Linked DNA regions of Homo sapiens. The protein of the gene in region 1 purifies or fractionates together with the protein of each later gene. This does not show direct contact. Each region holds a gene or a part of one and is shown in the gene's direction. Other genes may lie near its edges.

Region 1 (3,500 bases):
TCTGATTCTGTATTAGCTGAGAAATGGTGAAGAGATACATACAAGCTAGCTCCAGATGTTTTCCTCTAAATCCTTCATCTTCAAATAATCCTACCTCTTATTTACAATTGAAGCAATGTTTTTTTGGATAACTTTTTGCTTTTTTGTTGATTGTAGCTATAGTTTTTGTTATTTAAAAAAGTACTTCTACTCAGCTTCATCAGAAAATGATTTTGTTGCACAGTGACTTGTACCAGTTCCAATAATGTGCCCATGACTCCTCATTTGGAAAGTCCTCCAACTGGAATAAGAATTGTTCTTGCCATAGAAGCTATGCTTAGTCAGGGTCATTTTTCTTTTCTTTTGATGACTATGGAGATATAGAAGAACAAAATTTAGAGATATAGAGAAGAGTGTTCAGAATTTCAATGCAGGGTGTAAGTGGGCAGAGAATAGTGTTATTCAGGAAGTGTTTTAATCACATATTTTGAATAATTGAGTCATCATCTTGATTTTGGAGTTTTAAAAATACCAAAACTCTGTGCCCCACTGTCTATGCTGCATTCTTTGACTGTAGTCCCTTCTCTGGGGTGGCCTCTGGGCAGCTGACTTCAGTGTGCTGGTCCCACTGTACAGCTGTACTTTCCTGACCTGTTTAGCTCCTGCCTTAGTCTGTTTTGTGTTGCTGTATAAGAATACCTGAGGCTGAGTGGTGGCTCACGCCTGTAATCCCAGCACTTTGGGAGGCTGAGGCAGGTAGATCACCGGAGGTAAGGAGTTGGAGACCAGCCTGGCCAACATGGTGAAACCTGTCTCTACTAAAAATACAAAAATTAGCCAGGCGTGGTGGCGGGTGCCTGTAATCCCAGCTACTCGGGAGACTGAGGCAAGAGAATCACCTGAACCCAGGAGGTGGAGGTTGCAGTGAGCCGAGATTGCACCACTGCACTCCAAGCCTGGGTGACAAGAGCGAGACTCTGTCTCAAAAAAAAAAAAAAAAAATACCTGAGGCTGAGTAATTTATGAAGAAAATAGATTTATTTAGCTCACTGTTCTGCAGGCTGTATAAGAACCATGGTGCCAGCATCTGCTCAGCTTCTGGTGAGGCTTCTGTGCTGCCAGAACATGGTAGAGAAGGTCAAAGGGGAAGTGGACACATGTGAAGGGCATGTGGCTTTATGTCAGCCCACTCTCGAGGAAACTACTCCATTTCCACAAGAACTAATTCAGTCTTGCCAAAGCTAGAACTCACTAACTTGAGAGCAGCACTAAGTGTTCATGAGGGATCCACCTCCATGACCCAGACACCTCCCACTAGGCCTCACCTCTCAACACTGCCACACTGGGAAGAAAATGTCAACATGAGGTTTGGTGGGGACAGACAAACCATAACCAAACCAGAGTAGCTCCCTTAAGAACATTTAGGACTACCACTTCTGAGCAACTTCTGACTGTCTAGTTGTAGCAGCTTTAATTTCTTTCCCTATGTACCCAGAAGGAGTGGCCTTGCCTGGCTCTACCTCTTCTCATTCCCTAACCAGCAGATCGATTTCAGAGGGCTTTTCCTGTGAGGTTCATACTCTGTACTTTTTTTGACAAAGTAGGAGATGAGGTGGTAATGATGTGTAGAGAGGGTTGGGGAGATGGGGATTAGTAAAGAGAAGATAGAGGACATGGAAATTGCAGGAGCTGAGTGGTAAACAGGAAGCCTTATGGCAAGAGTGTCAGGGATGGTGGCCTGTGGAAAAAACGGGGAAGGAGAAGAGAAGGGGGGATTGCAGAGAGAGCGAGGAAAACCAAGGAGGCCAATGACCTTGTCTGAAAAAACAGCATATATAAACAGAAATGTTAAGGTTTCTCTCTCTTCCTTTCTTCCTTTTTTTTTTTTTTTTTTTTTTTTGAGATGGAGTCTCACTCTATTGCCCAGGCTGGAGTACAGTGGCACGATCTCAACTCACTGCAACCTCAGCCTACTGGGTTCAGGCGATTCTTGTGTCTCAGCCCCCCAAGTAGCTGGGATTACAGGTGCGTGCCACCATGCCCAGCTAATTTTTGTATTTTCAGTAGAGACAGCGTTTCACCATGTTGGCCAGACTGTTCTCAAACTCCTGGCCTCAAGTGATCCACCCACCTTGGCCTCCCAAAGTGCTGGGATTACAGGTGTGAGCCACTGAGCCCTGCTTCTTCTTAAATATAGCATGCCACATCAGCAACTGGAAGACCAAAACTCACAAGGCATATTTCCTATCGTTTTTAGTCTTAAAATTCTCTAAGAGAACTCAAAAGGTTTAGTTTAAAAACTAGAGGATATTTTCATGGTATTGTCATTGAATTTGTTCAGATCATAAAAAAATTTTTTTTGAATTGGCAATAAAAGTTTTTATATTGATGTAAGGTAATACAACCTTATTCTATCTGGAATGATAAAATTATTACTTAGCTCTGAGCTGAAAAGAAAGCACATAATATGTTTGTTTTCTTATGTGAAGAAATGTCTGCACTTAGAACTTGTTCATTTTACAAAGTAAGTTTTCTGTCAGAAAGGCTGTCATTTAATTTATGACACAAATCAGAGGCCATAGTAGGAAGATAAAATAGATGGCCAAGAGTTGAAATGTGTCATCACAAATATCAAGTGCAATGAAAACATTAAAGATACTTGAAGATATTTAAGATATAAATAAGACAGTTGTCCATATGCATTTGACTTGTTACTTTTTTGGGATACGGTAAAAATAGAATTCATGTCAATCAATGAATTATTATTTTGCATTGAGTAGAAGATATTTATTTTGTAGGAATATATACTTTTCAGACCATTTCAGTTAAAACAGTAATGATATTAATGGAATCTGTCTTATTAAGGTAGTGAATCAACTCAACAAGAAGCTAAGAGTCACAGTCTGTGATTTTGAGTCACCTAGACAGTTTTCCAGAGTCATCACTAACCTTGTCTTAAGACATAGCGTGTTGTCTTCATTTATCTTAAACTATATCACAGAATCCCTGAGATAAAATTAGTCATATTATCATTATACAGCCATATGCTACCTACGTCAAGACTCTTCTCTTCATCTGATCATATGATGTGTAATATGTTTATTTAATAAAATATAATCCATGCTAAGTAAAGCATAACATCTATGACTTTTACATCAATATTCTGAGTAGCAAAATGCGAAGTCAGATATTTATTACTATGCATATACAAATCTGTAACAAATAAAACGTTTCCATGTGGTAGATTGTCTTTTTTACAACTTTATTGAGGTAAATTTTACTTAAAAATTTCACATGGTAGGTTTTGGAAAAAAAAATACTTTTTAAAAACAAAAGATTAACTCTTCTGTGTGGTACATGAAAAACTAACTAAAACCAAAAACAAAAGGCAGCCTGGGCGACATGGTGAGACCCCAACTCTACAAAAAATTCTTTTAAAACTTAGCCTAGCATGGTGGCGTGCATATGTGGTCCTAGCTACTCAAGGAGGCTGAGGCAGGAGAATCGCTTGAGCCCAGGAG
Region 2 (3,500 bases), on another chromosome or scaffold:
CAGGCAGCAGTCTCTACGTCTGGTCCCAGGCTGCCTGAGAAAGAGCATGTGGGAGGCAAACCTTGCGCCCTGGCATGGTTGTTAATGTTTATATTTACCCTAGCTTGTGTGGGGTAGGAGGTTTAGGGATCAAATTCCACTCTGTGTTTAGACATTTTTTTCTTTCTTTTTTTTTTTGAGACAGTTTCACTCTGTCACCCAGGCTGGAATGCCGTGGCACAATCTCAGCTCACTGCAACCTCACCTCCCAGGTTCAAGCAATGTTCCTGCCTCAGCCTCCGGAGTAGCTGGGATTAGAGGCATGCACCACCATGCCTGGCTAATTTTTGTATTTTTAGTAGAGACCTCAAATGATCTGCCCGCCTCGCCTCCCAAAGTGTTGGGATTACAGGTGTGAGTCACTGTGCCCAGCCATGTGTTTAGACTTTTAACTAATCTCTTTTTTAGTTTCAAGCCTTATCGTCCGCCTCTGTAGACCACTCCTGTGCCTGTTTCCTGATCCTTCCAAGGGCCATTGTATTCCCTGTCTGCTGCCCCTCTTTTGGATTCTTCTGCACATTTTTTTGTTCATGCATTCATTCATTTATTGTTTGATTAATGACAGGGTCTTGCTTTGTCTCCCAGGCTGGTGTGCAGTGGTGCGACCACGGCTCACGGCAGCCTCAGCCACCCAGATGTAAGCGATCTGGTTCCCACCTCAGCCTCCCGAGTAGTAAGTAGCTGGGACCACAGGCGGTGCCCAGGTTTTTTTTTTTTTTTTTTTTTTTTTCGTTGGTAGAGACAGGGTCTCACTGTTGCCAGGACTGCTCTGAAACTCCTGGTTTCAAGTGATCCCCTTGCCTCCTCCCACTTAGGCCTTCCAAATGCTGGGATTACAAGGCATGAGTCACCTCCAGGCCTTTTTGTACTTTTAAAACTCTGCATCAGTGTATAAACAATGTTATTAAAGTTTATATGACTTCAGTTACACTACATGGATCCTTTTTCACTCACGGTTGTGAGATTTATTTCTGTTGCTACATCCAGTTCTAGTCCATTTGTGTTAAGTGCCCAGTGTGTTTATCTACTGAGGGACAGTTATGTTATTTCGTGTTCACTATTATCCCATGCTACAATAAATATCCTGTGTCTCCCAGATACTTAGAAGAGTTTCTGCAGGGCACATGTGGGAGAGTTTGTTTCTGGGTCATGAGGTGTGTTCATCTTCCATCTTGCTAGATGCTGGCAAAGGGTTCTCCAGTGTGGTTGCATCAATTTACTCGCCCAGCAGTGTGCAGAGTTCCTGTTCCTCACATTTACCAACACTAGATAGTACCAGACTTTGATTTTTGCCAATCTGATGGGTTTGAAGTGGTACCCCTGTTTTAATTTCATGACCAGAAATTCAAATTTAATCTTTGCTGTAGGACAACAGTAACCCACTTATGCCTAGTGTTCCATTATTAGAACGCTAAGCATGTGGGAGTTTTTACATCATACTGCTCAAGGTCATCGCCAAGGTCTGATGTTTTTACTCGTGCAAAAATTTAAAAAATTGCAACCTCTGGCATAAATGGGTTGAGTGACACTTTTCCTGTTTTTATTGTTGGTCAGTGATGGCATATTTGCTGGGTTTTTTTGTTTTTTTTTTGAAACGGAGTCTCACTGTGTCGCCAGGCTGGAGTGCAGTGGTGTAATCTCGGCTCACTGTAACCTCCGCCTCCCGGGTTCAAGTGATTCTCCTGCCTCAGCCCCCTGAGTAGCTGGGATTACAGGCGTGTGCCACCACGCCCAGCTAATTTTTGTATTTTTAGTAGAGACGGGATGTCACTATGTTTGTCGGGCTGGTGTTGAACTCCTGAGCTCATGATCTGCCTGTCTTGGCTTCCCTAAGTGCTGAGATTACAGGCCTGAGCCACCGCTAGCCTATTTATTTTTTATTTTAAATTTTAATTTTCTATATAGAGACGAGGTCACTATCCTGCCCAGGCTGGTCTTAATCTCCTGGGTTCAGTCAATCTTCCCACCTTGGCCTCCCGAAGTGTCAGAATTATAGATGTGAGCCACTGTGCTCAGCCCAGAACTGATGTTTTCTAAATGCTGGGTGCTGAGAAGGATGTGTGGCTGGCAGTCTTGACTGTGTTATCTGTCTTTACCAGGCCAGTAACTTCTTTGGTCTGGTCATCAAGATAATCTAGCATCACCAGCAAGCATGCATGGAGAAGGATGGGCCCAATGTGGCCAAGATGGTAACGGGACCAGTAGAGAGCCCTGTAGAAGACATCTAGATATTCTGCCCTAAGAGCCCGGAGGGCCGGGCTGTCTCATGACCCTCTGACGTGCTGACCTGGACTCTGGCAGAATGTGCACACACACAGTCACACAGCTTCCTGGCTTGCGCAAGTCCCAGGAGGGCGGTGCCAGCCACAGGCTTTTCCCATTCGAGGGTTGGAAGCGTATCATCAAACCACATCAGAGTGCTGGGGGCCACCTGCCACCCATTCCCAACCCACTCAGCCTTCCTGGTGTTTGGGACATGCTTTGCTTTGGCAGTCAAGACAGCAGAACAAATCAACTTTTAAGGCCTTGTCACTGATAGTACAATTTCCATTATTTTTCATCCAAATTAGGATACTTCTGAAAATAGAAATGATGACTCTGGGATGCAAACGTTGGCTGTCCTATGTATAAGGAGATGGCTTTTCACGCTCCCAGTGACTGAGGAAGTTTCTCCCAGATGGCGCTGCTCTGAGCCTGGTGCAGGGTAGGCACTTTCAAAAGAGTGTCTCCTTGTATCTTCCATCAGCCTTGCGAGATGGGTATCTGTTCCCAGGGCCCCAAGGGAGGAAAACAGGACCTAGCTGGATCCAAGAGCTAGGCCTTTCTTTTTTTTTTTTTTTTTGAGATGGAGTCTGACTCTGTCGCCCAGGCTGGAGTGCAGTGGCGTGATCTCGGCTCACTGCAAACTCCGCCTCCCGGGTTCACGCCATTCTCCTGCCTCAGCCTCCCGAGTAGCTGGGACTACAGGCGCCTGCCACCATGCCTGGCTATTTTTTTGTATTTTTAGTAGAAACGGGGTTTCACCGTGTTATCCAGGATGGTCTCGATCTCCTGACCTCGTGATTCGCCCACCTCAGCCTCCCAAAGTACTGGGATTACAGGCGTGAGCCAGCATGCCCGGCCCAGAGCTAGGCCTTTCTGTGGCTGGCCTTCGCGTCAGCCTCAACTACCCTGGTGTAATCTCGCCTGCGGTTGAATTAGGGAACCGCCGTGTTCTGCAAGCTGGAGAGGCAGAACACTAATGAGCAGAACACTAATCTCATTGCAATCTCAAAGGATCTCTAAAAGCTTTTATAAAGCAGGCCCAAGGTCCTTTGGTATCCGATGCAGACGTGGTGAATGCATTGGCTCTGTCAGCATCTGAGCAAGTCAGTAACAGAAATGGGGAGTAAAAGCTTTCAGAACTTTCCAGAATATTGACTAAATTGTCTTGTTTACAACCAACAACGACAACAAAAAAT

What was found. The genes of interacting proteins can lie anywhere in the genome.
Region 2: the proteins of RNF103 (region 1) and CTSB purify together in Homo sapiens (affinity purification with mass spectrometry, with the first as the bait; one large-scale study listed by BioGRID). This does not show direct contact.

What each region holds. Positions count from the first base shown.
Region 1 is NC_000002.12:86,606,866-86,610,365, reverse strand, and holds part of RNF103 (E3 ubiquitin-protein ligase RNF103), read left to right. Parts: intron 1-3,500. UniProt on the Homo sapiens protein: Acts as an E2-dependent E3 ubiquitin-protein ligase, probably involved in the ER-associated protein degradation pathway.
Region 2 is NC_000008.11:11,861,588-11,865,087, reverse strand, and holds part of CTSB (cathepsin B isoform 1 preproprotein), read left to right. Parts: intron 1-604; exon of another isoform or gene 605-712; intron 713-2,609; exon of another isoform or gene 2,610-2,743; intron 2,744-3,500. UniProt on the Homo sapiens protein: Thiol protease which is believed to participate in intracellular degradation and turnover of proteins. Cleaves matrix extracellular phosphoglycoprotein MEPE. Involved in the solubilization of cross-linked TG/thyroglobulin in the thyroid follicle lumen.